Linked DNA regions of Homo sapiens: all the other regions are linked to region 1. Evidence: fine-mapped QTL for protein levels in blood plasma. A gene starts in region 1. Each other region holds a variant in brackets. All regions are shown on one strand. Distances are between the middles of the regions.

Region 1 (8,102 bases):
GGCAGAGGTTGCAGTGAGCCGAGACTGTGCCACTGTACTCAAGCCTGGGTGACAGAGTGAGATTCCGTCTTAGAAAAAAAAAAAACACTGGAAAATGTCTGGTCATGGCTGCCATCACTGCCCCAATTGTGTCTCCAAAACTGCCAATTGTTTACATTTAAAATCCCATCATCTCTTATTATGGGTAATTAAGATGCGCAGGAGGGGATATTTTGGAGCAGTGTGGTCCAACTCAACCTTCCGAGATGATGAAAATATTTTACATCTGTGCCACCCAATAGGGGGAGCCACTAGACTGTAAGGCAATTGAGCATTTGAAATGTGGTTAGCACCGCTGAGAAACTGGGTTTATTTAATTTAAAATAACTAAAATTAAAATAGCCACATGCAGCTAGTGGCTACCACATTGGATAGTGTCGCTCTAGAGGGTGAGGGCACCACAGCGTTCTCTGTCCTTTAGTTCCCTGCCCCTGAGGGATTTGACTCTCTTGTCTTCCAGAGTCCAGAAGGGAAAAAAGGGACAGAGAAAGCAATGGACTGATGGACAGAGGCTCCTCAGCCATGCCTGGGTCTCCATCTTAGGGTTGGAGAGGTTGTTTGCTTTTCTGCTTTTCTGGCTCCATCTGACTTGTTACCAAGGCAACTGGATTAATATCATGAAGTTGATAGTAATGGCTGGTGAGGACAGTCTCTCTAAGTACAAACCCACAAGCTGCTCACAAACAGACTCACTGTGGCTCCAACAGGGAACATCTCCTATGCCACCTCTGGTCCCCACCCCAAAGCTGACCTGCCAGGAAGCAGGGGATGCGCGCTGAGCGGTTGGTGAGGAGACAGGGGTCATCGTGCAGGTTGTCAAAGGGCAGCAGGGCCCGGCCGTTGTCTTGGAAGCGCTGGTTGACGGCCAGCAGCCCCAGCTGGTTGGACATGTTGCGCAGGTTCCTGGCCAGGGGCTCCTCGCTGCCGTACACCATGCTGGCGTCCACGAAGGAAGTGAGCGCGTTGATCTGGTTGCGGATGGTGATGTTGCTCCCGGGGCAAGCCGGGCAGGAGCGGAAGAACGGGATGCAGTCGGCTTGGTTCTTGATGCGGGGGTCATTGGGCGGGATCTGAGGCACAGAGAGAGGCTAGACTGGCTCACCGAGGGCAAGGAAGGTGCCCAGGCAGAACTGGATCTCCCCCTGCCCTCAGGACCTCTGGTACCCTCAACCTGCAGAGAGGCCTCCGGAGGCCCGAAAGGGATCGCTGCCTAGGGCGCCATCAGCAACAGCCTCTGAGGTGCAGGGTTAATGAGCAGAACACTGAACTGGGAACCTGGGCAACCCCTGGGTCTGGGCACCGCCAGGCCTCGGATCCCTCCTCACTAAAGCGTCGCCCGTCTCTCTCCCCTTCTCTCTGCTGTGCCTGCTCTCCCTCTGGCCCTGACATTCTCCTGTCTGTCTCTCCCTCTCTCAGGCGCTCTCTCCTTTCTCTCCTCCTCCTTCCCTACTCAGCAGTGCCTCGACCACCCTGCCCACTCCCAGCCCTGTCCCACGGCACCCACCAGACCCCCAGGCTCTCTCTTTCTGTGTGATGGGGGTTGGGGCTGCCCTCTCAGTGGGGCGGAAACAGGACTGAGCATGGAGGCTTGGGGGGCACTGAGAAGGTCTCCTCCCAGAACCCTCTCCCAACCTAACAAAGAGCCAGTGATTCCACCAACAGGACTCCTGTCAGCCAAGGAGGAACAACCCTCTCTCCCTTGGCCTGCCAGAGGCAGTGAGCAAATGGACGGCCCTGGCTGCCAGCTGGCTGAGCCCAGGCGCAGGAAGGAGACAGGTCATAGCTGAGCAGCCAGTGCTGTGGACACAAGGGAGGCAGGGCCAGCCTTCCTCAGCGTCTGGGAAAGGAAACCTGGGCACAGAAGGGAGATGGCCCCTTCCAGAAACAATCTCCCCTCTCCCAACCCAGGCAGTGGGCGGGAAGCAGGGCCACCTTGAGCGGGAAGCAGGGCGGCTGCTGAACGCAGCTGGTCTCGCAGTTGACGCCAGTGACGAAGGAGGCCCGGGCGGCCGGCTCAGGGGTGAAGTCGAGGTCGTGGTCCAACAGCTGGCCCCATTGCATGAACATGAGTGAGCGCTCCTGGTCCGGAGTCAGCTGATCAGTGGGGAAGCGCACGATCTCGTTGGAGACCGCGCGAGCCTGCGGGACACGGAGATCAGCTGGCGCCTGGGTCCGCGCACCGCGTGGCCGGGCCTCGCCCCCTCTGCCCGCCGGCGCTCACCAGAGCCACCGGGAAGCCGTTGCGCTTGACCCCGGGCGTCCAGCCGTAGGGAAGAGAGAAGCCGTCCTCATACTCCGCCGGCAGCCAGCGCACAAAGGCACGGTTGGAGGCCCCCAGCGTGGGGCTGCGTCTGCAGGGGAGGACAGGGCGCTGACACCGGGAGGCTTGTGGCGTCCGGGACGCCTCTCTGAGCCCGGTTCCTGCAGCCACCCCCAGCCAGCCGCACCTGTTGTTGCACATCCCGGTGATGGTGCGGTATTTGTCCTGCTCCGGGCAAGTCACCCCCACGTCCTGGTAGGCGCAGCCGCTTGACTTGGACAACACATTCAGCTGGGCGGGCGTCAGCACATCTGCCGGGGGAAAGAACAATGGGGGAGCTGAGCCGCCTCACTTCCTATCCCAGGCAACCTGAGGCTGAGGAGCCCTGGAGACTCCTGAGACTCCCTGGAGGAAGAAGTTGAGGGGATCACTGAGAGACGGCTGGGGTCCCTAGGAGGAGTCACTAGTGGAGCAGGGACCTGGGGTGTGATGGGCAACAGTACCAGTGACATTGAATGGCCTTCGCCACAGGGACCGCAGCTTCCTCTCCAGCAGGTCTAGAGCCACGTGCAGGTAGTCAGCGGCCCTCACCGCCGTCCTGGTGGCTGCCACCGGCTGCTTGAAGTAGGATAGGAGTTCCATGGGGCTGGCTGAGCCGCTGCGAAGCCGCTGCTTGATGCTGCTTGGAGAAAGGAGGAGTGAGGGCCAGAGAAGGGATACAGACCCACCCAGCAGAGCCCCAGCCCAGGGGCAGACATGCAGGACCATGCAGGCAGGCCCACGGGTGGGAGGAAGGCTTCCTTTTATAAAAAGGATATGGACCTGGGTGTCCAGACAGAGGCAAGGCTTTGGGAAGGATGGCTTTTAAGCTGTTCTCCCATCCAGAAACACAGGGACAGACAGACAGAAAGGGAGTCCACATGGGTCCCCATAGTCCCCCTCTCCCACCTTCAAGCTCCCTGCTGCCTGCTGCTTCTCTGAAAGGCCTGGGACATCCTTGCCCAGAGCTGGGCAGTGCCTCGTGCCCCACCTTTCCCGCCGCTCCTTGTAGGCCTTGTCCACCAGCTGCTTGGCCTCCTCCATGGAGCTCAGCACCAACGAGGTGTCCACCTCCCCCAGGACAGCTGCCCAGAGCAGGGATCACAAAGTCAGGAATGGGCCCCAACCCCCTATCAGGCCCCAGAGCTAGGAAGGCCTGCTCTGAGAAAAGGGGTCTCTGGAACACAACCACCCCAACACACCATCTTCTCCCACCTTGGGAACTGTTACCTGGAGCAGCACCTTCAGAGGGCTGGGGCGTGGCCAGAATGGCCAGGAGCCCTGCTAGGGCCAGAAGCAGCTTCATCTCTGCAGTGAGACCCCCAGCCCAGCAAGGTCCTAAGTCCACCATGCATCTGAGAGAAGAGAAGAAGGGAACCCCCATCTCTCTTCTCCTGGGCTGCTCAATCCCCCTTTGTACCTCAGCCCCACCTCAGAGGGCCCTGTCTATGGATAAAGCCAGACCTCCTTGAGGGAGGGGCTCACTGCTCTCTTATCCCCTTGCCAGCTGCTGTCATCCAGCTTCCAAGGACCCCACCTCCACAGCTCACCTGATATTGTCAGCTCCTCTTAGCTCAATCTGCGCTTTTATGTCCTCTAAGCTGGGGGTGGGGTGAGGTAGAGGAAGGTCTGATCCTGGAGACTGAACTCTTTCTCCTCCCCCACTGGGGTTGGAAGGTACACACAGAGGGGCCCCTGAAATGGGGGGAAGGGGCAGGAAAGGAGGGGCCAGCATTGTCCCCAGCCTTTTTTTTTTTTTTTTTTGAGACGTTATCTTGCTCTGTTGCCCAGGCTGATGTGCAATGGTTCAAGCGATTCTTCTGCCTCAGCCTCCCGAGTAGCTGGGATTACAGGTGCCCGCCACCACGCCCTAGCCTCTAGCCACATCATCAATTATTTCCTTAGGCAAGAAGTAATTTTTGTATTTTTCCTTAGGCAAGAAGCTAATTTTTGTATTTTTAGTAGATACAGGGTTTCACCATGTTGGCCAGGCTGGTCTTGAACTCCTGACCTCAAGTGATCCACCCGCCTCAGCCTCCCAAAGTGCTGGGATTACAGGCATGAGCCACTGGCCCCAGCCTGTCCCCAGCCTTTGAATTTAGCACTACCAGCCCAAGATTTCTCAGCTCACCATTGTGTGCCTATACCAGTGCTTGTCCCCAGGGGATACACACAACTAACCCCTCTGAAATTCTGGTTACACTGGTTATCCAGGGTTCCTTTGAAAGGAACAAAAGTCAGGAACTGGTAGCCCAAGGAATTGCAGGGAATAGAGTGCCCCCAGGGAAGACAGGAGGATGAAAGGGAGACCTGGAGTAAAGATGACCCAATTGGCCTCAGGTGGCCATCCCCCACTCCAACAGTAACCTGCATCCAACAGCCACCCAATGGGCAGCCTCTGGTTCTTGGTGGGGCTAAGGGGACAGGAAATCTGGCTGGAGACCGTTGGGCTTCACAGGAAGGAGGACCCTGGGGACTGTGGGCGCAGGACCAAGATAACTTCCTCTATCCCTCCTCACTCCCCTTTCTTCTTGGCTTCTGGTAGAGGGCTGTCTCCAAACTCCTCCTCCCCACCACCATCTGCTCCTGGATTTCAGGAACCAGGAGAGAGCAGAACTGGTTGTGGTTAGTGATCAGTTAGGTGATGCAGCCCAGGGCCTCTCTGGGACAGGATCAGTGCAGTTGGGAGGACTTGGGTTAATGATTCAGAATAATTCTGAAACAGAAGAGGATATTTCTTGCTTGAGAAAGCCCAGCAAAAGGGCCACCAATCTCAGCAGGAAAAGTACTACGACTTTTGACTGAATCAGTCTACCTCTCTGGGCCCTGGTCAGGCTGAGCTCGTGCCAACCATGCCTCCCATGTCCCATTTAGGTTCCCCCTCCTACCTTCAGCCACCTTCCCGCCACCCACTCTTTTTTTTTTTTTTTTTTTTTGAGACAGGGTCTCTCACTGTTGGCGGAGCTGGAGTACAGTGGTGCAATCTCGGCTCACTGCAACCTCTGCCTCCTGGGTTCAAGCAATTCTCCTGCCTCAGCCTCCCAAGTAGCTGGGATTACAGGCGCCCGCCACCATGCCCGGCTAATATTTTGTATTTTTAGTAGAGATGGGGTTTCAACATGTTGGCCAGGCTGGTCTCAAACTCCTGACCTCCTCCTGATCCACCCACTGTTGGGATTACAGGCGTGAGCCACCGCGCCCGGCCCACTCTTGTCTTCTATGCCCAGACCACCTCTTGGCCAAGGGACAAGGGACAGCAACACCCAGAATATCTTCCCAGTGTGTCCAGGGATTCTGTCCCCTGCTGAGAAGGGGAACCAAGCTTTTGCCCTGCCAGTGACTTGCTGTGTGTGAAGTTGGTCGAGTGGCTCTTTGTGAATCAAGCTCTAGAATTTTAGAGGCTTTTGGAAATGATTTTTCAATCCTTTAAGTAATATAATTTTCACTGATGAAAAGTTTGAGAACACGAGTATGCAAAAATAAAAATAAATCAAAATTACTCATCATCAAGTGAGATTGTGGGTACTTTTTTCTTTCAAGGTTTATCATTGTCTTCACATAAATAAACAATAGGAAGGAAAATAATTGCCCATAATCCCACCACTCACCAATACCTCATTTAAGAATTTGATATCCTATATGTAAACATAATATATATTTTTAAATATTGATAAGAAGAACTTTAAATATTGTTTTACCATCTACTTTCGGTACTTAACAATTTTAGTCTGAGCATCTCCCTGTGTCAATAAATACAGGTTTACTTCATTTTTATGTCTGTATAATATTTCATATAACTATTTTATATGATTTATTAACTAATTCTATCTCATTAGATACTTAGAGTTGTTTCTGATTTTCATTATTATAAGTAGTACTAGGATAAGCATCCATGGAGTTAAATCTCTCGCCACATCGTCAATTATTTCCTTAGGCAAGAAGTAAAATTCCTGCGTATTTGGGTATGCGTGTTTTAGGGCTTTTTAATATTGATAGTCAAATGGCCTGCTGAAGATTTTACCTCATCCTCCCATCAGCCATGCATGAGAGCACCTGTCCCCTGTCACCCTTGTCAACCTTGAGTATGCTTGAGTGTCCTTTCGCTCTTTTAAGGGAATTGTCAAGGCTCAACAGGGGAGAGATATTTAATGCAAGCCCCTTATTGTAGAGCTGAGAAAGAAGGAGCCCAGGGAAGGAAACGACTTGACCAAGGTCAGCAGTGTGACACAGTTCAGAATAATCTCCATGCCCAGTCTCCTGACTTCCAAACCAGTGCTCTTTACCCAGTAGCCTCTGGACACCTGTTCCTGACCTTTCATTCAATGATTTCTTCAACAAGTATTTACTGAGCCCTTGTCATTCAATGATTCCTTCAACAAGTATTTACTGAGCCCTTGTCAGGTGCTGCGCTGGGCATTGAGCATTCTCCACTGAGCAAAGCATGAGCCTTATCCTCAAGGAGCTCACAGAGGGGAGCAGAAAGGCAAACAAATGGCACCCCCAGAACCAATGCAGGGACCTTAGGGAGCAGCGAAGAGCAGCACTTGGATCAACTGGGGGAGGTCAGTGAAGGCTTTCTTGAGGAATTGATTCTGGAGACTGTCTTGAAGAATGTCTCAAAGCTGACCAAGTAGACACAGAGGAAGAGCATTCTGGGCCCAGAGAATGACACTGTCGGCTTCACTCAGTTCCAACACAGGGAGAGGGTGGACAGGGTGAGGCTGGTGGGCCAAGCAGAGGCCCAGGATGCAACATTCTCGCAGACCTACTGAGAAATTATTGTCCCGAAGCCCCAGGGAGTCATGAGGTCTGTGAAGCGGAAGTGCATGGTCCAAGTTACTTTGGAGAGCTCACCTGCTCTGGTTGCAGTGTGGACAGTGCGCTGGAAAGGCAGGCCCAGACACAGAGACCTGGCAGGCAGCATGTCAGCGATTCACCTGTTAAGAGGCTTGCTCTGCTTCCTCACAGGCAGCAATCAGGCCAGGAGTGTTTGAAAATACTTCTCCAAGAACGACGTTTAAACTCCCTGAGTGCTCCACCCACATAGAGGTGAGAGCACTCCCAAGATGTGGATTCCCCAAAGCCCCTGTCTTTGGCCCGGGGGTGGGTCTGGGGATGCACATGTGTGTGCCAGGGCTAGAGATGTTCTATGACTTGACATGTTTTCAACCAATTAATAATGACCCACCTGAGGTTATCCCAAGGTGGTCAGCCTCTCCTGTCTGCACCTCTGTCGTTCCCTCATCTAGGCCCTATTTGTCGGGCCAGGTGTGTTTGAGGCTCAAAGCTCTTCTCAGCATGCAGAGTAACCAGGGGAATGCAGCTCAAGGGAGTGGGAGGGATTTCAAATAAGCTTTGTCCCATGTGAGTTACCCGCCAGTCCCCTTCCTGGGGGTAGGCTCTGGAGGGCACTGCTGGGACTGCTACATCTCAAGACTATAGTCATTTGAGAGAGCTCCCCGCCTCCAACACACTCACACCCCACTGCCGTCTCTTCTGCCCACTTAGAGTTCCCAAATATCCCCACCCCCAGGGTGAAGCCCAGCTGCTGGTGGGATAACGGGCCCTCTCTGCTACTGCTTGCAAAACAGCATGTTGTTTCTTAATGCTGTTTAAGAAATAATTCAGTTGGGATTTCAGCCTGATTTCCTGTGTGTGGTTGGAGAGAAAGAGGCACCCCCAGAAGGCTATGGAAGCTGGGGAGATGGCAGAGGCAGCGGCTGCTTAGACAAACCAGTTTTACTCAGCCCATAGATCTTGTTTT
Region 2 (8,104 bases), 1.3 Mb after region 1:
ATTGCGAGGTCAGGAGATGGAGATCATCCTGGCTAACACAGTGAAACCCCGTCTCTACTAAAAATACAAAAAATTAGCTGGGTGTGGTGGCAGACGCCTGTAGTCCCAGCTACTCGGGAGACTGAGGCAGGAGAATGGCGTGAACCCGGGAGGCGGAGCTTGCAGTGAGCCCAGATCGCACCACTGCACTCCAGCCTGGGCGACAGAGCAAGACTCTGTCTCAAAAAAAAAAATTTTTTTTTTAATTCCACTGGCATAGACTTTGGTTACATTAATAAACTAGGTGATGGGGAATTACAGCGTTCCTGTTATGTGTTGGTCACTCAACATTTGGAGTTCAGTTTTGGATATAATCAAGTTTTATGAGGAGTTTGACATACTAGTGTTTTTAGAGAATGGTACTTAGGTATGGTAGATCTCTTAGAAACCAAGTAACTTATAAGGAGTGGTTGACAGAATTGGTAATTGGAGGAATCAAGGGGGGAAATTAATTGCAATATTTTAGAATAAGTAGTTTTTCCTTTTATATAGAAGAAGCAGCTGACTGGTTTGGTATTGCTCTAGCACAAGGGTGGCAAACTGTGGTCTAATCTCACTGACTGTTTTTGTAAATAAAATGTTAGAATGCAGCCATACCCATTTGTTTATGTGTGGCTGCTTTCACTGTAATAGCATGGTTGAGTAATTGTGACAGAGACCATATGGCCTGCAAGCCTAAGCTATTTACTATCTGGCCCTTTACGGAAAATGTTTACCAATTCTTGCTGTAGAAGCTACCAGGACCTATTGGTACAAATTGTAGGAAAGCTGGCAGTAGAACAGTGTAAGAGATTATTGTTTGCTTATTATTTTTTCTTTTTATAAGAGATGGGATCTTGCTGTGTTGCCTAGGCTGTTGTCAAACTCCTGAGCTCAAGCAGTCCTCCTGCCTCAGCCTCCCAGAGTGCTGAAATTATAGGCGTGAGCTACCATCCTTGGCCTTGTTTTATTTATTTATTTTTAAATAGGGTTATCAATCCTGGAATGGACATTTTATATAAGGTATTGGACCTTTTGTCTTCTATTGGATTTTTTTCAAGGTGAGAAGTTGGAGTAGATGATTTTTCATATCCAGATTTAAGGTGGAAAAAATAACCCAGTGCAGATGATATCAAGTAATTATTTTTCCTGTTTTTAAAAAATATATATTCATGTTTGATGATGCTATCCCTTTTGAATATTATTGTTAATTGTTAATTTTATTATATTTATTAATAGCGCATTATGGTGATGTAAGAGAATGTCCTTATTTTCAGGAGATGCATGCCGAGATAGTTGTAAGTGTGCAATGGCATTGTATTTGCAACTTATTCTGAGATAGTTTGGCAGAAAATAAGTACATACACATGTACACATATGTGACACAAATATGGCTAAATTAATTGAATATATTTCCCCATTTATATGAAAGCATTTTGTCCGGCCGGGTGCGGTGGCTTACGCCCGTAATCCCAGCACTTTGGGAGGCTGAAGTGGGTGGATCACCTGAGGTCAGGAGTTTGAGACAAGCCTGACCAATATGGTGAAACCCCGCCTCTACTAAAAATACAAAAATTATCTGGGCATGGTGGCAGGTGCCTGTAATCCCAGCTACTCAGCAGGCTGAGGCAGGAGAATCACTTGAACCCAGGAGACGGAGGTTGTAGTGAGCCGAGATTGCCACACTGCACTCCAACCTGGGCAGCAGAGTGAGACTCCGTCTCAAAAAAAAAAAAAATTAAATTGTATTTAAGAAGCATTTTGAGGCTGGGTGCGGTGGCTCACGCCTGTAATCCTAGCACTTTGGGAGGCCGAGGCGGGCGGATTGCTTAAGCACAGGAGTTCAAGACCAGCCTGGGCAACATGGTGAAACCCTGTCTCTACTAAAATACAAAAAATTAGCTAGGCGTGGTGGCATGTGCCTGTAGTCCCAGCTACTCGGGAGGCTGAGGCAGGAGAATTGCTTGAACCTGGGAGATGGAGGTTGCAGTGATCAGAGATCGTGCCATTGCACTCCAGCCTGGGCAACAGAGCGAGACTCCATCTCCAAAAAAAAGCATTTTGAGGTACTATTGAACAATTTATAATTTTCAGTACTAATTAATATTTCTCTACTATTAATATTTCTCTACTATTTTTATAAAAGTTTGGAAAAAAATTATGGACTGCAGAAAAGAGTAGACTTGACAGGCTGTGAAGGATGGGTGGGGCAGGATTAGGATAAGTAGACTGGTGAGAGTATTTCAGCTAAGGGGAGTCAAAAAGAATCACTTCTTGAAGTAGAGGAGTGTGATTCAGAAAAAAATTATTTCCTCTTTTGCCAAATGCTGATCATGATCATATAATTTTTTTTTAGAAAAAGAAGATGACTTGAAAAATAGAAATAAAACCTTTTAAAGAAATTTTCGTCATGTCTATATAAAATCCTACCATGTTCAAGGAATGCCTCTCACTTCATATCTCATTTAAACACACAGGTTTCCCTATTTGGATCCACCTAATGAGAGACTTATTTTAGAAGCTCTTAAACAACTTTACCAGTGTGATGCTATTGACAGGTAAAAAAAAAAAAAAAAAATCACAATCAAAACAGATATTGATCTCTTTTTAAACAGGGCTCTAAATACCTTTCTCTAACAGTAGAAAATAATTTCTTTAAATTGAATGGATTGTTAGTCTTTCATCACAATTCTGATTGAAAAACCAGCCGGGCGCTGTGGCTCATACCTGTAATCCCAGCACTTTGGGAGGCCGAGGTCGGTGGATCATGAGGTCAGGAGATCGAGACCATCCTGGCTAACATGGTGAAGCCCCGTCTCTACTAAAAATACAAAAACAAAATTAGCTGGGCGTGGTGGTGGGCGCCTGTAGTCCCAGCTACTCGGGAGGCTGAGGCAGGAGAATGGTGTGATCCTGGGAGGCAGAGCTTGCAGTGAGCCAAGATCATGCCACTGCACTCCAGCCTGGGCAACAGAGCGAAACTCCATCTGAAAAAAAAAAAAAGGAGAAAGAAACTGCACGGTATAATCCCTTTTGTTTAATAAATATTGGTATTATTTAACAAGTAATTTCTGAGTACCATTTCAGTGCTAAGCATTATGCTGGATACATAAAAATGATAAGAGAGCCAGAGTCCTTGTTTTCATGTTTGTGTGATGGGGTGGTTAGGTTTGATATTAATAATTATTATTCTCTTGGATGTGCGTGGTGGCTCACGCCTGTAATTCCAGCACTTTGGGAGGCCAAGGCGAGCAGATTGCTTGAGCCCAGTTGTTCGAGACAAGCCTGAGAAACATAGTAAAACCCATCTCTACTGAAAATACAAAAATTAGC[C/T]GATGGTGTTGGCACATGCCAGTAGTCCCAGCTACTTGGGAAGCTGAGGTGGGAGGATCGTCTGAGCTTCGGAGGTGAGGGGTGCAGTGAGCTGAGGAGATTGCGCCATTGCACTCCAGCCTGGGAGACGGAGCAAGACCCTGTCTCCAAAAAAAAAAAAACGGTAAAATTGAAAAAATAAAATTATTATTCTCTCATGTCTTCAAAGACATCTTCTTTTTTTTTGTTTTTTGAGACGGAGTTTTACTCTTGTTGCCCAGACTGGAGTACAATGGTGCAATCTCACCTCACTGCAATCTCCACCTCCCAGGTTCAAGCAATTCTCCTGCCTCAGCCTCCCAGGTAGCTGGGATTATAGGCATGCACCACCATGCCCAGGTAATTTTTTTATATTTTGGTAGAGATAGGGTTTCACCATGTTGGTCAGGCTGGTCTCAAACTCCTGACCTGAAGTGATCTACCTGCCTCGGCCTCCCAAAGTGCTGGGATTACAGGTGTAATCCCCCTCAGCCTCCTTAGTAGCTTTGCAACCTTTGCCTCCCGGGTTTGAGTGATTCTCCTGCCTCAGCCTCCCAAGTAGCAGGGACTACAGGCGCATGCCACCACACCCAGCTAATTTTTGTGTTTTTAGTGGAAACGGGGTTTTGCCATGTTGGCCAGGCAGGTCTTGAACTCCTGACCTCAGGTGATCCACCTGCCTCAGCTTCCCAAAGTGCTAGGATTACAGGCATGAGCCACCACGCCTGGCCTAATTTTCTTAAATTGAATTGAACTTCTGGAGGTGATTGGAGGTAACGTAAATTATATCTGATTTATTCTGAATGATGAATGTTACATTTGTACTCTCCTAGTGTAGAAAGACTTACAAACTTTTTCTTTGTATTAAGGAGTGGCCATGTCACCAGATTGGGTTTGTCTATGGTGGAGTTTCCTTTGCCTCCACATCTGACATGTGCAGTAATAAAAGCTGCTTCCCTGGATTGTGAAGATCTACTACTTCCAATAGCAGCAATGTTGTCTGTGGAAAACGTCTTCATTAGACCTGGTAAGATGTTTATTTTAAGTTGTGTTTTTTAAAACTAATAGACTTGGCTGGGCACGGTGGCTCACGCCTGTAATCCCATCACTTTGGGAGGGCAAGGCAGGTGGATTGCTTGAGGTCAGAAGTTGGAAGACCAGCCTTACCAACATGGTAAAACCCCATCTCTACTAAAAAAAAAAAAAAAAAAAAAACCAAAAACAAAATTAATAGACTTTATTTTTTAGAGCATTTTTAAGTTTACAGAAAAATTTAGTAGGAAGTACAGAGGGTTGACATTCATCCCCTCAACCTCCCACAGCAATTTCTCCTATTAACATCTTTGATTTGTATGACATATAAGTTGCAATTGGTGAGCCAATATTGACACATTATTATTAACTAAAGGGATCACTCTTTGTGTTATATGGTTTTAGCTGGGATTATAGGCATGTGCCACCACGCCTGGCTAATTCTGTATTTTTAGTAGAGGCGCGGTTTCTCCATGTTGGCCAGGCTGGTCTCGAACTCCTGACCTCAGGTCATCTGCCCGCCTTGGCCTCCCAAAGTGCTGGGATTACAGGCGTGAGCCAGCACGCCCAGCCGGGTTGTTTTCTTATTGTTAAGAGGTCTTTGCATATTTTAAATAGTTATTTAACAGATAGATCTTTTGTAAATATTTTCTCCCAGTCTGTGGTTTATCTTCTAATTGTTTTGACATTGACTTTTGCAGAGCGGAAGTTTTTATTTTTGACGAAGTCTACCTTATCAATTATTTCTTTCATAGATTGTGTCTTTATTGTTGTATCTAAAAAAGTCATTGTCGTACCCAAAGTCATCTAGATTTTCTCTTCTATTGTCTTTTAGTATTTGGACGTACAGTTGTTGCGGTACCATTTGTTCAAAACACTGTCCTTTTTCTGTTGAAATGCCTTCGCTTCTTTGTTAAATATCAGCTGACTATTCTTATATGGGTCTGTTTCTGGGCTCTGTATCTTGTTCCATTTATCTGATTGTCTGTTTGTTCTTCCACCAATACCACACTGTCCTGGTTATTGGAGCTTTATAGTAACTCTTGAAGTTTTGTTCTTCCTCTTCAAAATTGTTTAGGCCATTCTGGGTCTTTTTCATATAAACTTTAGAACCAGTCTGTTGAAATCCACAAAATAACTTGCTGAACTTGCTGGGATTTTTTTTTTTTTTTTTTTTTTTTGAGATGGAGTCTTGCTCTGTCACCCGGGCTGGAGTGCAGTGGCCTGATCTCGGCTCACTACAAGCTCTGCCTCCCAGATTCGTGCCGTTCTCTCGCCTCAGCCTCCCGAGTAGCTGGGACTACAGGCGCCCGCCACAACGCCCGGCTAATTTTTTGCATTTTTAGTAGAGACAGGGTTTCACTGTGTTAGCCAGGATGGTCTCAATCTCCTGACCTTGTGATCCACCCGCCTCAGCCTCCCAAAGTGCTGGGATTACAGGCGTGAGCCACCGCGCCCGGCCCTTGCTGGGATTTTAATTGGGATTATGTTTTAATTAAGATAGATTAAGTTGCGAAGAAATGACATCTTGACAGTATTGTCTTCCTATCCATGTACATGGAATATCTCTTCATTTATTTAGATTGCCAGTAATTCATTGAGCATTTACTGAGGGTTTACCGTGCCTTAGCCCTAGGACAGAAAACTAAGGATAAACAAGTTTTGTTGTTGTTGTTTTTGAGATGGAGTTTCACTCTTGTTGCCCAGGCTGGAGTGCAATGGTGTGATCTGGACTCACTGCAACCTCCTCCTCCCAGGTTCAAGCGATTCTTCTGCCTCAGCCTCCCAGGTAGCTGGGATTACAGGCATGGGCCACCACGCCTGGCTAATTTTTGTATTTTTAGTAGAGATGGGGTTTCACCATGTTGGTCAGGCTGGTCTGGAACTCCTGACCTCAGGTGATCTGCCTACCTTGGCCTTGGGATTGCAGGCATGAGCCACCACGCCCAGCCCGGCGTTAATTTCCTTTCATTAGTAAAGGAAGATAGTGCTTTTATAGTACATTAGTAATTTACTAATTTTTTTTTTGTAGGATCAAAAGAAAAGGTAGTTTAGCCCTTGCATCCTTAGAGAATTCTTTTGAAGTTTCCAGGTCTTTAAACTTCTGCTTCTTTCTTTTCTTGGTGTGTCAGTATAGGACACAATTTAATTTGACATATGTTAGATTTGTTTTCATGCAGTGGAGTAATTTTTTCTTTCAAGGAGCTTCCAAGTGAACAGTATACCTTGTCTGCAGCCAGACAACAGAATGGGTTAGCTCACTGGCTTTATACCTTTGTAGGCTGGAAGTGTCGGGTCCAGATTAATTTATTATTGCCATGATTATAATGGAGGATACATTTTTCTATAAAAATACTCTAATCAATATACTGTTTCAAATAGTTTGCAGTCTTTTTTTTTTAATTTAAAAAATTTTTAAATTTTATTGAGACAAGGTCTCACTGTGTTGCCCAGGCTGGAATGCAGTGGCGTGATCTTGGCTCATTGCAACCTCTGCCTTCCAGGCTCAAGTGATCCTCCCATACCTCAGCCTCCCCAGCAGCTGGGACCACAGATGCTTGCTACTATGCCTGGCTAATTTTTTGTATTTTTATACAGATGGGGTTTCACTCTGTTGCCCAGGCTGGTCTCAAACTCCTGAGCTCAAGTGACCCACCAGCCTTGGCCTCTTAAAATGCTGGTATTACAGGCCTGAGCCATTGCACCCAGCAGTTGCAGTCTGAAATGTCAGAATTTTAATTCTGGTAATACCCCTAATTGCAATTTTTTGTTCTAATAAAATGCTGTATAAAAATAAGTAATGTTAACTGGTTTTCATGAGGCAGTATCAGAGCTAAAAATACCAGTGGGCACAGTGGTATCCCAGCTCCTTGGGAGACTGAGGTGGGATGATTGCTTGAGCCCACGAGATCAGGGCCAGCCTGGGCAACATAGCAAGACCCCATCTCTGATAAGAAATTAAAAAATAGGCCAGGTGTGGTGGCTCACACTTGTAATCCCAGCACTTTGGGAGGCTGAGGCAGGTGGGTCACCTGAGGTCAGGAGTTTAAGACCAGCCTGGCCGACATGGTGAAACCCTGTCTCTACTAAAAATATAAAAATTAGCCAGGCGTGGCGTGCACCTGTGTTGCCAGCTACTGGGGAGGCTGAGGCGGAGAATTGCTTGAATCCAGGAGGCGGAGGTTGCAGTGAGCTGAGATCGTGCCACTGCACTCCAGCCTGGGTGACAGAGTGAGACTCCATCCCCAAAAAGAAAAAAGAAAGAAAGAAATAAACAAGCTAAAATATTTCAAAACCTATTACAGAGTATTGAAGTAGGAGTTAAGAGTGCAGGGTTCTGTCCAGCTCCACTACTACCTAATTATCTGACCATGGCCCTAGTTTTTCTAGATTTCATTTTTCATTTGTAAAACCAAGAAGTTGGATTAAGGTGACCAACTCTAATAGTCTTTTAAGGCTAGAAAAAGAAAAATGTTTTTTCCATGTTGGAATATTTAAATAGATAAAATCAGTGTGGTGTTAGCCTTTTTTGGGTGACATTTATTCTTATATAATTTCAAATAAGAATAGCAAAGGAATTCCTTTATACCTTCTATGCAGTTTCCGCAATTTTTAACATTTTACCCCCTTTGCTTTATTACTCTGTCTCCCTCTATATATGTATATATAAATGGATTTTTTTCTTTTTCTGAATCATTTAAGA
Region 3 (8,104 bases), 390 kb after region 1:
ATGGTATCCATGAATGCCAGGCTGACCACAGCTCTGAGGCCTCTATGATTATTTGTGCCCCCTCATGGCTCTGATATCACAGGTACTAACAGACCCTTTTTCCTATGCTGGGAGAACTCCATTTCTGATGACCACATTGTCTACTCCAGTATTTTTGCCATTCATATTCTTGAATTTCTTTGCTGCTAATGATGAAAAACACCTGTTCTCAAGTCATTACTTACATGTAGCACATACTTCTCATTTACTGACAGCCACTTAAATGTTCAAGGTCCAGTCCGCTGGCCTAGCCACTGGGGATACTAAGAGGAATAATGCAGAGACTGAGTCTGCCTGCAATAAATAAGATCATAGTCTGTAGGGAAAACAGACTTGCCAGACCTATAAAAAGTTCAGCAGGGCCACATTACGATTTTGAAGGGCCCATACTTTTGCCTTTGTGTGCCTGCCTCCTCTGATAAAATATATACATTTCCATTAAAATATATGTTAAAAATGCTATCTTATGACTGCATTGATTAAAAGATGAATATATTATTATATATGACATTTTCTTCCACCTAAAAATTCATTTTTTTCTTCTGATTTTTAAAAGAAGTGCCCCTAGGCAGTGTGCCTGTGGTACGTAACAGATAAGGCCACCCTGGGTTCAGTGGCACTGAGTGGATCCCAGGCAGTTTGGAAGGGCTGAAGTATAAGTTTTCCAGGTAGATGAAGAAGGGCAGGGCAGGGAAGTGCATTCCAGGAAGAGCAGGCATGTAAGTTTGTGGAAGTAATACAGCAAGGCTCTCTGGAAACTTTAAAATAAGGAAACAGATTAAGTTAGAGCACTGCTTGTCCAGTGGAATATGATGTGGGCAACATTCGACATATTCAGTTGAACATTTTTAGTAGCTATATTATTATTTTTATTATTTTATATTTATAGAGATAGGGTCTCGCTATGCTGCCCAGTCTGGTCTTGAGCTCCTGGTCTCAAGCCATCCTCCTGCCTCAGCCTCCCAAAGTACTGGGATTACAAGCATGAGTCATCAGGCCCGGCCCACATGAAATTAACTTTATTATCATGTTTTGCCTGGGTGCAATGACTCATGCCTGAAATCCCAGCACTTTGGGAGGCTGAGGCAGGATGGCTTGAGGCCAGCAGTTGAAGATCAGCCTGACCAACTTGCCTAAACCCTGCCTCTACTAAAAATACAGTTAGCTTATTGTGGTCATGCGTGGCTGTAGTCCAGCTACTCTGAGGCTGAGGCATGAGAATTGCTTGAACCTGGGAGGCGGAGGTTGCAGTGAGCCGAGATCGCGCCACTGCACTCCAGCCTAGGCAACAGGGTGAGACTCTGTCTCATAAAAAACAAAAAACAAAAAAACCCACAACTCATTGCGTTTACCTCACTAAAGTTCCTAAGCATTAAATGATAGCAAGGTACAGCTTTAAACAGTAAGCAACGGTAACAACCCTGCAACCCCAAAGCATTCTTAAGAACCAAAAGAAACAATGAAAAAAAAAAATAAGGCTGGGCGCGGTGGCTCACGCCTATAATCCCAGCACTTTGGGAGGCCGAGGAGGGTGGATCACATGAGGTCAGGAGTTCAAGACCGGCCTGACCAACGTAGTGAAAACTCGTCTCTACTAAAAATACAAAAAACTAGCCACGCGTGGTGGCGGGTGCCTGTATTCCCAGCTCTACTCAGGAGGCTGAGGCAGGAGAATCGCTTCAACCTAGGAGGCGGAGGTTGCAGTGAGCCGAGATTGTGCCACTCAACTCCAGCCTGGGAGACGGCGAGACTCTGTCTCAAAAAAAAAAAAAAAAATTGGGTGCCATGGCTCACGCCTGTAATTCCAGCATTTTAGGAGGCTGAAGGTGTGGATCACTTGAGGACAAGAGTTCGAGACCAGCCTTGCCAACATGGTAAGACGCCATCTCTACTAAAAATGCAAAAATTAGCCAGGCATGGTGGTGCATGCCTGTAATGTAATCCCAGTTTCTAGGGAAGCTGAGACACGAGAATAGCTCGAACTCGGGAGGTGGAGGCTGCGGTGAGCCGAGATTGCTCCACTGCACTCCAGCCTGGAAAATAGAGCAAGACTGTGTCCCAAAAAAATAAATAAGGCAAAACCTAAAACAACCAAAGAAGGCTGAGCGCATGAATTCGGATGCCACTGCACTCCAGCCTAGATAAACAAAGTGAAACAAACCTTCCACGGCAAAAAAAAAAAAAAAAAAAAAAAAAAAAAGCAAAAGCTAATACACAACTAACAAAACTTGCATTTCAACTACCACAACCAGCAGCAAGTGCGAACGCAATCTCCCGCTACCACAAATTATACACTGTAGTTACCCACATTTGGGGAAATCGTAGGGATCAGCACAAAGTGCAACGAATAAGCCACACACAGGGAAAAACCACCTCCATAATCACAGTATTTCTCCTGACAGGTAATTATGAGGTACTTGCGTGACCCCAGCAATCCCCGGTGCCGCCCACATCATTGCAAGTGCGGGTAACTCCTGAAATGACTCTAATTGGACTTTATCCACATATAGTGAACAAAATAAACAGATTTTTTATACTATATCTTGGTGTTGGTAACAGAGTTGTGCAAATCCTTCCAAGGAACGCGTTTCCAAAATGCAGTCTTTAATCTACATACTCCACCTCCCGGCGTGACGTCATGCATAGGCCTGGCTGGTCAGAGAGCGCAACTGCGTTCTCATCTCGGCCCGCTTCCAACCAGCAGTTCCTTCTCCTGCTCGCGTCAATGCAAGTGACGTCTGTCAGGCCATTTTCCTGACAAAAACGCACCACCTCACTACTTTTGGCGTAGCCTAAGGCCTTCGGATCTCCCTGTATGGAGAGTTTCCTTGAGCTAACAGACGTGAATGAACTTTTAGTCACGGGATACCCACGCTGTGAACCACCCCGGCATCATTTCCTCTTATTCCAAGAAGGGGAACAGGGCATGCTAGCAGGCTGTACTGCAGAGTGGAGGGTTTTGGAATCCAAGATCTGGACTGCAATATAGCGTTCACAATGCAAGACTTTCGATGAGCTTATGGCCTCAACTTGTTCCTCAGTTTGTAAAACCTGCATTACTGTCCTTGGAGGAGTTTTTGTGAAGACTAAAACAAATACATTAACGAACAGCTTAAACCTTAAAGCATAATTATAACATGTGAGTCAGGCAACCCAATAAAAACCCTAAAGCAAACCAAGAAATACTAACAGCTAACATCTACTGTTTACCATGCATCTGGACTTTATGGTTAATCCTCACAACGTTGAGGTAGGAAATGGAATCATCCCCATTTCATGGATAAAGAACCTGAGGCATGACAAAGATTCTTTGCTGGCCGGGTGCAGTGGCTCACGCCTGTAATCCCAACACTTTGGGAGGCTGAGGTGGGCGAATCACTTGAGGTCAGGAGTTCGAGACCAGCCTGGCCAACATGGTGAAACCCTGTCTCTACTAAAAATACAAAAATTAGCCGGGCATGGTGGCAAGTGCCTGTAATCCCAGCTACTTGGGAGGCTGAGGCAGGAGAACTGCTTGAACCCGGGAGGCGAAGGTTGCAGTGAGGCAATGAGCCGTGATCATGCCACCGCACTCCAGCCTGGGCGACAGAGTGAGACTCTGGCTAAAAAAAAAAAAAAAAAAAGATTCTTTTCTTGTTTGCTTGGCCAAACCTTATTCAGGCTTCTGAACCTTCTCATAGGCCAGTCTGTGCATGTTCTTGTAAAATCCAGTTTTAGTAAAGGAACCCTGCTAAGTCAATTTAGCTGAAACCCAAATTCTCCAAATCTGATCAGGTTCCTCATCCTGCACCACCCCCCAGGTGATATCTGATCACCCCAGCCTGTCTTCAGCAAGAATCCTGTTAGATCAGTTTAGCCAGAATTCCTCTTACCCCTGATGTTTCCTCTTGGTAATTTTCTAACCACTGACCTCCACACTGCTCCTTGGCTACAAATTCCCATTTGCCCATGCTGTACTTTGGACTTGTGCCCAGTCTTTCTCCTCCACTACAAGACCCCATTGCAGCGGTCTCTATACCTATCCTGATGGTCCTGAACAAAGTCATCCTTACAGCAAAAAAGTGCACCTCTCCCAGCTACCAAAGCCTCTTCTACTGATGTGCCTGGAGGAGCTGCAGTAACTATAAACCCCTGCAAATGTGGAGGAAGTAACTGGAGCCTGGGTCCAGTCATGACTGTCTACTGAATCATCTTAGCCAATGCCCACTGAAGGCTCAGGGTGCTCCCAGCACAGGGAGAAGAACTTCACACACCTTAACTCATTTAATCCACTCAACAATTCTACAGAGTACACAATATCTCCATTTTGCATATGAGAAAACTGAGGCCAAGGGAGGCTGAAATGTGCCCAAGTGGTAGAGAAGGAATTAAAATCCATGTAGTCATCCCCAGAGAGGACTTCTTTTTTTTATTTTTATGCACACACAGACAAGGGTGACATCTACAGAAAATAATCTGGATCACCCAGAAAGCATGTGGCATCCTAGGTGAACTGCTATGCGAGGTAACTGGCCCAAGGGCTCTAGTCACCCACCCTAACATCCTACCCAAAGGCCCTGAGGACTGGGGGGTCAATATATTACATCACACAGTTTGAGAAGCTGTAGGGTGGAGACATTCTGGCAAGTGAGTGTCATTTGTTCCGGGTATATATCAAATTAGAAAAAAAGGCTGAGAACCACTGTTCTAGGTAGGCATAAAAAATGGAACCTGGCAATTATCAACACTGTATGAATGGAGGATTAGGGATACATCTGTATTGTGTAAAAAAGGGGGAGACAATGCCAGGCACAGTGGCTCATGCCTATAATCCCAGCACTTTGGGAGGGTGAGGTGGGCAGATCACCTGAGGTCAGGAGTTCAAGACCAGCCTGGCCAACATGGTGAAACCCCATCTCTACTAAAAATACAAAAATTAGCCAGGTATGGTGGTACAC[G/A]CCTCTAATTCCAGCTACTCAGGAGGCTGAGGCAGAAGAATGGCTTGAACCCAGGAGGCAGAGGTTGCAGTGAGCCGAGATCATGCCACTGCACTCCAGCCTGGGCGAAAGAGCGACACTCTGTCTCAAAAACAAACAAAAAAAAAAACAGGAGGGGGTGTGGAGAGGAGTTTGTCATATTTGCTGAAAGTCACCAGACGATGGCTAAAGAATGTAACAAGCCAGCTGCTGGGCGTGGTGGCTCACGCCTGTAATCCTGACACTTTCGGAGGCCGAGGTTAAGTGGATCATTTGAGGTCAGGAGTTCGAAACCAGCCTGACCAAAATGGTGAAACCCCATGTCTACTAAAAATACAAAAATTAGCCAGGTGTGGTGGCGCATGCCTGTAATCCCAGCTACTCAGGAGGCTGAGGCAGGTGAATCACTTGAACCTGGGAGGCAGAGGTTGCAGGGAGCTGAGATCACGCCACTGCACTCTAGACTGGGCAACAGAGAGAGACTCCGTCTCAAAAAAAAAAAAAAAAAAAAAAAGCCAGCAACAGCTTGAGACTTCATTGAGGTTTAGCAAGAAGCACCCTCATGTGAATACATGTTAACAAAATGTCAGGAAGGAGCATTGGTGCTGCTCTAATCTAATGTTACTCCCTTGCCCAAAGCCCTTCAATACTCCTTACTGCCCTCTGGATAAAGCACCAACTCCATCCCACGCTCCTTGAGGCTCTGCATGGGCTGGCTCCATAGCTTTTCCAGCCTGCCTGTACTGTCCACCATACCGCCGTGGCAGCCACAGCTACAGCCGCAGCCTCTTTCCAGCCTCAGAGCCTTTGCCTGTGTAGTTCCCCTTGCTTAAAATGTTTTTACCCTGCCTCTCCTGACAAATCTAACTTCTCTTCCCACGCTGAGCTCCCTCTGTTATCATAGTAAGAGTCCTTTAATTTCTCTTTTAGTCTTTATCTTCAGTCCATTCATTATTCCACTGTGTGATTATCAGTCAGTTTCCTGGGCTAGACTACAGACTGTCGAAGGACCTGAGAGTTTTCATCTGTCACTGCTGGAGTCTCAGGCTAGCAAAGTACCTGGCATGGAGATTTCTGCCTATCTATCCATCTATCTATAGGATGTGTGTGTGTAATGATTAGAAAGCTAAGAAATGTGATAGAAAAGGAGTGTGAGAAGCCTAAATAAACTTTGGGAAGATTAAAAAAAAAAACAACAAACAGCTTTGGGAAGGTAAGAATAAGGATCAGGGACCAAGAAACTAAATTCAGCCAGGAGCCGTGGCTCACGCTTGTAATCCCAGCACTTTGGGAGGCTGAAGTGGGTAGATCACTTGAGGTCAGGTGTTTGAGACCAGCCTGGCCAATATGGAGAAACCCATCTCTACTAAAAATACAAAAATTAGCTGGGTGTGGTGGCAGGCACCTGTAATCCCAGCTACTTGAGAGGCTGAGGCAGGATAATTGCTTGAACCCGGGAGGTGGAGGTTGCAGTGAGTCAAGATTGCGCCACTACACTCCAGCCTGGGCGACAGAGTGAGACTCCCTCTTAAAAAAAAAAAAAAAAAAAAAAAAAAAAGTGACTATACTTAATATATTCTTGAAAATTCCTGAAAGCATATGTTAAGCATCTTTACCACAATAAAATGATAGAAGTACATACAGTAATGCATATATTAATTAGCTCCCTGTAGCCATTCCACAATGTATAATACTTCAAAACAACGTGTACACAATAAATATATACAATTGGGACACTGATTACCATTACATGTCCAAATATTGCTTCCACTCCACCTTCTGGAACTCTCATTGCATTTATCTTGACCCTCTCATTCTATTCTCTATCTCTTTGAAACTTTCTTGCATTTTCCCATCTCTATATTTCTTTGAGCTACATCCTGGGTAATTTTTCAGATCTGTCTTCACTAATTCTGTCTTTGGCAGTGTCTGCTGCTTAACCCATTCACTAAGATTATTATTTCAATTATTGTAGTTTCATTTTGAGAAATGAATAGACTAGAGAGGGTTTCTTTTGTTTCTGCCTGGTGCTGGGGGACATCACCAAGCCAGGCTAAAGTAACTTTTTGTGCCATCCCCTAACATATACACATAGCAGTATGAATTCTGGCCCATTTTGAGGGACTGTGAATGTGAGATAGTGGTGAAGATTTCTCTGCCCCTTCCCATTCTCAGGCTGAGGCTGAGACCAGCACATATCTCTAACATCTTTCTCTTGGGGAGGGGGCATTCCTCAGAACTGAGAGTGTTCTTCTCCTGGGGTCGCAGCTTTATAGAATGAGGAGGGACTCTCTAGTCAGACCTCCCACCCAGCTCAGGCCCCAAGCTTTGTCTCCTGCCTGTGGTCCATTAAAAGCCAGCCCCAGAGCTTCTAAGGATGGCCAATGTCCTTAGGAAATAGACAGGGTCCATCCCTGCCTTTCCTTTCTGGATTTGTTTCTTTCTCTGGGTCTCTGTGGATTTCTCTTTTTGCTAGATCAGAAATATATTTTAAAAACTCGTTTTCTTGTTCTATTTTCTCACCATTTTACATGTTTTGAGCTTACAAAAGCCTTCCCTGGACCTCAGGTCTACTCACTGCCAGAGAAGCTCATCCCTCAATTCATCTAATCCTTTAGACTTTCCACGCCATTTCACTCACTAGGCCCCTAGCCCCATCTCTCACCTACTTCATGCTGCAGCACAGCGTATTTCCTCTATCTTAGAGGCTCCCAAACTTTTTGGCACCAGGGACCAGTTTCATGGAAGACAATTTTCCATTTCTCCACGGATAACAGGGGGTGGGTGGGAATGGTTTCAGGATGAAACTGTTCCACCTCAGCTCATCAGGCATTAGTTAGGTTCTCATAAGGAGTGTGCAACCTAGATCCCTGGCATGCTCAGTTCACAATAGGTTTCACGCTCCTATGAGAATCTAATGTGGCTGCTGATCTAACAGGAGGAGGTGCTCAGGCAGTAATGACATCACCTCCTGCTGTGCGGCCTAGTTCCTAACAGGCCACCAACTGGTACCATGCTCCTTCCAGGGGGTTGGAATCCCCTGCTCTAACTGGTCCTAGAGCCAATCAACAGTCATCTCCTCTACTCCCATTTCCCCAGCACTGCTGGAG
Region 4 (8,087 bases), 430 kb after region 1:
GCCTGAAGCCAGGAGTTTGAGACCAGCCTGAACAACAAAGCTTGACCCCATCTCTAAAAAAAAAAATACATAAAATAAGAATAATTGGCCGGGCACGGCGGCTCACATCTGTAATGCCAGCACTTTGGGAGACTGAGGTGGGCGGATCATGAGGTCAGGAGTTCGAGACCAGCCTGACCAACATGGTGAAACCCCATCTCTACTAAAAATACAAAAAATAGTCAGGCGTGGTGGCATGCCTGTAATCCCAGCTACTCAGGAGGCTGAGGCAGGGGAATCATTTGAACCCAGAAGGCGGAGGTTGCAGTGAGCCAAGATTGCGCCACTGCACTCCATCCTGGGCGAGAGAGCAACACTCCATCTCAAAAAAAAAAAAAAAAAAAAAGAAATTTTAAGTTATGTATGCTTTTTGTAAAAGAAAAAAAAAGTTCTAAACAATAAAAAATGTAGGAAGCGATTATTCATTACTCAGAGATTGTGTAAATATTGTTGTCTGGTGTAAATATTTTTGCAGACTTCATGCATATACAAACTTACGTTTTAGAAAATGAGGTCATAGGCCAGGTGTGGTGGCTCACGCCTGTAATCCCAGCACTTTGGGAGGCCAAGGCGGGCAGATCACGAGGTCAGGAGATCGAGACCATCCTGGCTAACACGGTGAAACCCCATCTCTACTAAAAATACAAAAAAGTAGCTAGGCTTGATGGCGGGCGCCTGTAATTTCAGCTACTCGGGAGGCTGAGGCAGGAGAATGGCATGAACCCGGGAGGCGGAGCTTGCAGTGAGCTGAGATACGCCACTGCACTCCAGCCTGGGCGACAGAGCAAGACTCCGTCTCAAAAAAAAAAGAAAATGAGGTCATGCCACCGCAGTGGCTCACGCCTGTAATCCCAGCACTTTGGGAGGCCAAGGTGGGAGGATCACTTGAGCCCATGAGTTTGAGACCAGCCTGGGAAATATAGTGAGACTTCATCGCTACAAATTTTTAAAAAAATCTTAGCCAAGCATAGTGGCATGCACCTATAGTTCTAGCTACTTAAGCGGCTGAGGTGGGAGTATTGCTTGAGGCTGGGAGGCAAAGGTTGCAGTGAGCTGAGATCGCACCACTGCACTCCAGCCTAGGCAGCAGAGCAAGACCCTGTCTTCAAAAACACAAAAAGAAATGAAAATGAGGTCATATTATACATGCTATTATGCAAAGCAGTTTTCTGTTTTTCACTTAATATATTGTGAACATCTTTCCATGTATACTACTTTTTTTTTCCATGTACACTACTTATAAGTCTGCTTTACACTAACAGCTGCATAGTATTTTGCTGTATGACTGTAGCATAGGTTTTTTTTGTATTTGTATTTGTTTTTGGGTTTTCTTTTTTATGAGACAGGGTCTCGCTCTGTCATCCAGGCTAGAGTGCAGTGGCATGATCTTGGTTCACTGTAGCCTCAATCTCCTGGGCTTAAGCAATCCTTTCACCTCAGCCTCTTGAGTAACTGAGACCACAGGCACACACCACCACACCCAGCCAATTTTTAAATTTTTTGTAGAGGCTGGGCACGGTGGCTCACACCTATAACCCACCACTGTGGGAGGCCAGGGCAAGCAGATCACTTGAGGTCAGGAGTTCAAGACCAGCCTTGCCAACATGGTGAAACCTTGTCTCTACTAATAATACAAAAATTAGCCAGGTGTGTTGGTGCTCACCTGTAGTCCTAGCTACTTGGGAGGCTGAGGCAGGAGAATCACTTGAACTCGGGAGGTGGAGGTTGCAGTGAGCCAAGATCACACTGTTGCACTCCAGCCTGGGAGACACAGTGAGACTCTAGCTCCAAAATAAATAAATAAATAAGTTTTTTGTAGAGATGAGGTCTCACTATGTTGCCTAGGCTGTTCTTGAACTCCTGGGCTTAAGGGATCCATCTGCTTCAGCCTTCCATAGGCATGAGCCACTGTGCCCACCCTGTAGCGTAGTTTTTTTAACCACCTCCTTATTGATGGTCTCTCTCTTTTTTTTTTTTCTGTTTTAGATAGAGTCTTCCTCTCTCACCCAGGTTGGAGTACAGTGTCACACTCTTGGCTCACTGCAGCCTCCACCTCCCAGGTTCCAGAGCTTCTCATTCCACAGTCTCCCGAATAGCTGGGATTACAGGCGTGCACCACCACACCTGGCTAATTTTTGTATTTTTAGTAGAGATGGGGTTTCACCATGTTGGCCAGGCTGGTCTCAAACTCCTGACCTCAAGTGATCGACCCTCCTCGGCCTCCCAAAGTGCTGGGATTACAGGTGTGAGCCACCACAGCTAGTCTAGAATAAATTTCTTAAAGTGAAAATATTAAGCCAAAGGAATCGATTTTTGAACATTTTGTTTTATGTTATAAAATTACCCTCAGAAACTATGCTCCAAAGTATGTCTCTACAGCAATGAATGGGAACTCTTGTTTTCCCATATCTTTACCAACTTTGGGTACCAGTCTTTTATTTATTTATTTATATCTTTGAGACGGAGTCTCGCTCTGTCGCCCAGGTTGGAGTGCCATGGCGCGATCTTGGCTCACTGCAACCTGTGCCTCCTGGGTTCAAGAGATTCTCCTGCCTCAGCCTCCCGAGTAGCTGGAACTACAGGCGCGTGCCACCATGCCCGGCTAATTTTTTATATTTTTAGTAGAGATGGGTTTCACTGTGTTAGCCAGGATGGTCTCGATCTCCTGACCTCGTGATCCACCCGCCTCAGCCTCCCAAAGTGCTGGGATTATACGCGTGAGCCACCACGCCCAGCTAGGTACCAGTCTTTTAAATCTTTGCCAAATTGATATGGAGAAAGTCCTTTAAAAATATGTTTTTTGGATTATTGGCATAATTTTTTAAACAGCCTTAATGACATATATGATTCATCCTTGCAGTGTGCACAATTCAGTGATTTTCAGTGTATCCACAGAGTTTTGCAAACATCACCACTGTATAATTTTAGAATATTTCCGTCATCCTAAAAAAGAAACCCCAACCTCACAGTGAATTTCAGAATATTTAAAATGTCTGCTCCTTCAGTGTCACGTTTCAAATCTCATGCAAATTTTTCTTGCGGTCAACTATAACTTTGTACCCTATGGAGAAAGTAATTCTGGTTCTGGGAAACACACAGTTCCAGATTATTAAAAAAAAAAAAACAAAAAAAAACAAAAAACCTCTTTTCAGCTGGGTGCAATAGCTCACCCCTGTAATTCCAGCACTTTGGGAGGCCAAGGTGGGTGGATCACCTGAGGTCAGGAGTTCACAACCAGCCTGGCCAACATGGTGAAACCCCATCTCTACTAAAAATACAAAAAAATTAGCCAGTTGTGGTGGCAGGTGCCTGTAATCCCAGCTACTCAGGAGGCTGAGGCAGGAGAATTGCTTGAACCCAGGAGGCGGAGGTTGCAGCAAGCCAGGACCGCGCCATTGCACTCCAGCCTGGGCAACAAGAGCGAAACTCTGTCTCAAAAAAAAAAAAAAAAAAAAACCCTTTTCATTAGCTGTCATTCTCTATTCTACCCTCCCCCAGTCCCTCACAACCACTAGTATGCTTTCTGTTTCTGTGAATTTGTCTTTTCTGGACATTTTATATAAGCAGATCATACAGTATATGGCCTTTTATGTCTGACTTCTTTCACTTAGCGTGATGTTTTCAAGGTTTATCTGTATTTTAGCACCCATCAGTATCTTTTTAATGACTAATTTTGCATTTTATGGATATATCACATTTTGTTTATCTGTTCATTGGTTGAAGGACATTGCATGGCAGAAATATTTTTAAAGCTCTGAAGTTCATAATTTCAAGTGATTGTTACTTTACTGTTTTAAACTTTTGACCTGGCATGGTGGCTCACGCCTGTAATCCCAGCACTTTGGGAGGCCAAGCTGGGTGGATCACCTGAGGTCAGGAGTTCGAGACCAGCCTGGCCAACATGGTGAAACTCTGTCTTTACTAAAAATACAAAATTTAGCCAAGCGTGGTGGGGGACACCTGTAATCCTAGCTACTTGGGAGGCTGAGGCAGGAAACTCTCTTGAACCCAGGAGGCAGAGGTTGCAGTGAGCCGAGGTCATGCCACTGCACTCCAGCCTGAGCAACAGAGCAAGACTCTGTCTCGAAAAAAAAAAAAAAAAGCACTTATTCTTTAGAAGCTTGGCATAATCACATACTAATTTTCAGTTGTATCATGGAGGCCAATCGTTTTGCAAAAGTAATATAATTGCTATATAAATATTTGCTAATAATGGAAATTCTAATTTTGGCATGTTGAATACCTGGTAAATCAGTAGTTTGATTTATATTTTCCTAAAGATACGTAGTGCGTAAACTAAGTACTCTCTCTAAACCAGCACTGTCCAGTAGATCTGATGGAAAGATGAAAATGTACAGTCTAGTACAGTAGCTGCATGACT[G/A]TTCAGCACTTGAAATATAGCTAATACTACTGAGCTACTGAATTTATGATTTTAATTTAACTTTTTTATTTATTTTTTTTGAGATGGAGTCTCACTCTGTCGCCCAGGCTGGAGTGCAGTGGCGCGATCTTGGCTCACTGCAACCTCCTCCTCCCGGGTTCACGCCATTCTCCTCCCTCAGCCTCCCTAGTAGCTGGGACTACAGGCGCATGCCACCATGCCCAGCTATTTTTTTGTATTTTTAGTCGAGACAGGGTTTCACCATGTTAGCCAGGATGGCTTTGATATCCTGACCTTGTGATCCTCCCACCTCTGCCTCCCAAAGTACTGGGATTACCGGCACAAGCCACCACGCCTGGCTTCTAATGTAACTTTTTTTTTTTTTTTTAAGACGGAGTCTCGCTCTGTCACCCAGGCTGGAGTGCAGTGGCGCGATCTTGGCTCACTGCAAGCTCTGCCTCCCGGGTTCACCATTCTCCTGCCTCTGCCTCCTGGGTTCACACCATTCTCCTGCCTCAGCCTCCTGAGTAGCTGGGACTACAGGCACACACCACCACGCCCGGCTAATTTTTTGTGTATTTTTAGTAGAGACGGGGTTTCACCGTGTTACCCAGGATGGTCTCGCTCTGACCTCGTGATCCGCCCGCCTCGGCCTCCCAAAGTGCTGGGATTACAGTCGTGAGCCACCGCACCTGGCTAATTTAACTTTTAAAAGCTACACCTGGGCCAGGCACAGTGGCTCATGCCTATAATCCCAGCACTTTGGGAGGCCAAGGTGGGAGGATCACTTGAGGCCAGGAGTTCGAAGTTAATCTGGGCAACATAGCAAAACCCTGTTTCTACAAATAATTTAAAAATTAGTTAGGCATGCCTATAGTTCTAGCTAGTAGAACTTGTGCTTGAACTATAGTTCTAGCTACTGGGGAAGCTAAGGCAGGAAGATTGTTTGAGTCCACAACTTCAAGGCTGCAGTAAGCTATGATTGTGTCATTGCCCCCCAGCCTGGGTGACAGAGTGAGACCCCATTTCTAAAAACTATTCTTAAGAAAAGCTGCCGGCCGGGTGTGGTGGCTCATGCCTGTAATCCTAGCACTTTGGGAGGCCGAGGTGGAGATCACCTGAGGTCAGGAGTTCGAGACCAGCCTGACCAACATGGAGAAACCCCGTCTTTACCAAAAATACAAGCTTAACCAGGCATGGTAGCTCACACCTGTAATCCCAGCTACTCATGAGGCTGAGGCAGGGGAATCGCTTGAACTCAGGAGGCGGAGGTTGCAGTGAGCCAAGATCATGCCATTGCACTCCAGCCTGAGCAACAGAGTGAGACCTTGTCTCAAAGAAAAAAAGAAAAAGAAAGAAAAGCTGCCAATTTAAATTCCTGCTTAGCTTTTTCTAAGGTGCCCGATGAGAGGTAACAAATGGAGAATGCCCTGTGGCATGTAAGGGGAGGGGAGCTAGAAGAAAATCATGTCATCCACTTGGTATCTAATTGAGATCTAGATGGATCACAGATTTCTCCTTTGCGGTGAAACAGAAATTTTAGGGTGTTACCACTGCAGTGGGAACAGCCAAACAACCTTTTTTCTTTCGCAGTTTTCTTTTTCTTTTTTTTTGAGTTGGAGTCTTGCTCCTGTTGCCCAGGCTGGAGCGCAATGGTGCAATATTGGCTCACTGCAACCTCTGCCTCCTGGATTTCAGTGATTCTCCTGTCTCAGCCTCCCGAGTAGCTGGGGTTACAGGTGCCCGCCCCAACGTTCGGCTAATTTTTTGTAATTTTGGTAGAGATGGGGTATCGCCATGTTGGCCTGGCTGGTCTCGAACTCCTGACCTCAGGTGATCTACCTGCCTCGGCCTCCCAAAGTGCTGGGATTATAGGCATGAGCCACCGCGCCTGGGCTGTTTCTCGGTTTTCTTACATAAAAAACTCATTTTCAGAGTAGACACCTTTTTCTTACTGCTTTTCATGGAATTTCATTATCAGTTTTAGTTTGCAATATTAACTCTTTTTTTCTGGAGGGAAGATATGTATTAGAAGAGTATATAAAGTAACCATTTCTGGAGATTTGGGGATGGAAAGATAACAGATCTGACTTCTGTGTTAAGTCAGCCTTAAACGCTTTTGTTTTCCCTGCTTTATTTAAAATTACTGTCTTTCAAAACCTGGAACCTTTTTTGTAGGTCAGTATTTATACAAAGAGAATTAGCAATATGAAACCTTGAGGGCCATCTGTGAGTTGCAAAGCAACACCTGTGGCTGTTAATAGCTGAGTAGCATAATCATAATTTGGAGTCATTTGACCTGACTACTAGGATTTTTTTTTTCCTAGTTCATCTACTTATATTGTACCTTCTTTATGAGTTTTAAGTCTCTTCTCATAATTTGTTGCCTCAGTTTCTTTTTTTCCTATAAAATTATAAACAGTAATACTATATTTGCTTCCTTCTTAAAAGTATAAACATTGAGGTATTTGTTAAGGATTTCATATTCCTTTCAATAAAAATATTCTAGGGAGGCAATAGTGATAAAGAACATGGACTCAGGCCAGGCACAGTGACACATGCTTATAATCCCGGCCCTTTGGGAGGCCGAGGTGGGTGGATCACTTGAGGTCAGGAGTTCGAGACCAGGCCGGCCAACATGGTAAAACCCCATCTTTACTAAAAATGCAAAAAATTAGCCAGGCATGGTGGCAGGCACCTGTAATCCTAGCTACTTGGGAGGCTGAGGCAGGAGAATAGCTTGAACCCGGGAGGCGGAGATTGCAGTGAGCCGAGATCGCGCCATTGCACTCCAGCCTGGGCAACAGAGCGAGACTCAGTCTTTCTTTTTTGAGACAAGGTCTTGCTTGGTCATCAGGCTGGGGTACGGTGACAGAATCATGGCTCACTGCTGCTTCAACCTCCTGGGCTCAACCAATTCTCCTGCCTCAGCCTCCTGAGTAGCTGGGACTACAGTTGTGCACCACCATGCCCAGCTAATTTTTTAAAAAGTTTTTTGTAGGTCAGGTACAGTGGCTTATGCCTGTAATCCCAGCATTTTGGGAGGCTGAGGCAGGAGGATTGTGTGAGCCCAGGAGTTCAAGATCAGCCTGGGCAACATAGCAAGACCCTGTCTCTTAAAAAAAAAGTTTTATGAGCTAGATGTGGCAAACACCTCTAGTCCCAGCTGTTCAAGAGGCTGAGGTGGGAGGATCATGTGAGTCTAGGACTTCAAGGACCACCTGGGCAACATAGCAAGACCCCATCTCTAAAGTATGAAAATAAAATACTTTATGATCAGTAGAATCATATTTTCAGGTAACTACATCTTTTTATGGGTGGATTTTTAATTTTTTTTTTTTTTTTTGAGATGGAGTCTCACTCTGTTGCCCAGGCTGGAGTGCAGTAGCGCTATCTCAGCTCACTGCAGGCTCTGCTCCCCGGGTTCACGCCATTCTCCTGTCTCAGCCTCCTGAGCAACTGGGACTACAGGCGCCCGCCACCACGCCCAGCTGATTTTTTATATTTTTAGTAGAGACAGGGTTTCACCGTGTTAGCCAGGATGGTCTCGATCTCCTGACCTCGTGATCCGCTCACCCTGTTAGCCAGGATGGTCTCGATCTCCTGACCTCGTGATTCGCCCGTCTTGGCCTCCCAAAGTGCTGGGATTTAAAATTTTTTATCAGAA

Alleles and levels. Alleles are on the strand shown, and positions count from the first base shown. The strength of an association depends on the size of the effect and on how common the allele is.
In carriers of allele T in region 2, the plasma level of the protein whose gene starts at base 3,899 in region 1 tends to be lower than with C alone (weak association).
For the plasma level of the protein whose gene starts at base 3,899 in region 1, A is the low allele of the variant in region 3 and G is the other (weak association).
As copies of G replace A in region 4, the plasma level of the protein whose gene starts at base 3,899 in region 1 goes up (moderate association).

The links. A credible set is the group of variants that fine-mapping cannot tell apart. PIP is the chance, under the fine-mapping model, that this variant and not a neighbour inherited with it causes the effect. Protein levels are from antibody-based Olink assays in UK Biobank. Linkage for the fine-mapping came from a reference panel and not from the study's own genotypes, which makes the PIPs less certain.
Region 2: its variant is the best candidate, but not a certain one, in a credible set for the plasma level of the MPO protein (UK Biobank, PIP 0.90).
Region 3: its variant is the best candidate, but not a certain one, in a credible set for the plasma level of the MPO protein (UK Biobank, PIP 0.73).
Region 4: its variant is the best candidate, but not a certain one, in a credible set for the plasma level of the MPO protein (UK Biobank, PIP 0.75).

The regions. Positions count from the first base shown.
Region 1 is chr17:58,277,037-58,285,138 of GRCh38, forward strand. It overlaps MPO (myeloperoxidase), which reads right to left and starts at 3,899. Exons shown (of 12, transcript NM_000250.2): 1 at 3,569-3,899; 2 at 3,330-3,423; 3 at 2,803-2,978; 4 at 2,487-2,610; 5 at 2,261-2,390; 6 at 1,972-2,178; 7 at 791-1,109. The coding sequence starts at 3,722. RefSeq lists enhancers at 1-426, 1,558-2,247, 4,832-4,849, 7,226-7,841, 7,754-8,010 and promoters at 3,889-4,483, 3,889-4,029, 4,422-4,823, 4,708-4,933, 4,979-5,179.
Region 2 is chr17:59,583,658-59,591,761 of GRCh38, forward strand. DHX40 (DEAH-box helicase 40) reads left to right here. Exons shown (of 18, transcript NM_024612.5): 11 at 2,496-2,576; 12 at 4,239-4,396. Among named protein-coding and RNA genes, the nearest start is that of DHX40, 22 kb to the left of the region's middle. The variant C/T (reference allele first, on the strand shown) is at 3,352.
Region 3 is chr17:58,664,249-58,672,352 of GRCh38, forward strand. The region is part of intron 1 of TEX14 (testis expressed 14, intercellular bridge forming factor); the gene reads right to left. All of the region lies in intron 1 of IGBP1C (IGBP1 family member C), which reads right to left. It also overlaps the pseudogene RNU1-108P. Among named protein-coding and RNA genes, the nearest start is that of IGBP1C, 24 kb to the right of the region's middle. RefSeq lists an enhancer at 5,088-5,137. The variant G/A (reference allele first, on the strand shown) is at 4,977.
Region 4 is chr17:58,711,981-58,720,067 of GRCh38, forward strand. The region is part of intron 5 of RAD51C (RAD51 paralog C); the gene reads left to right. Among named protein-coding and RNA genes, the nearest start is that of RAD51C, 23 kb to the left of the region's middle. The variant G/A (reference allele first, on the strand shown) is at 4,421.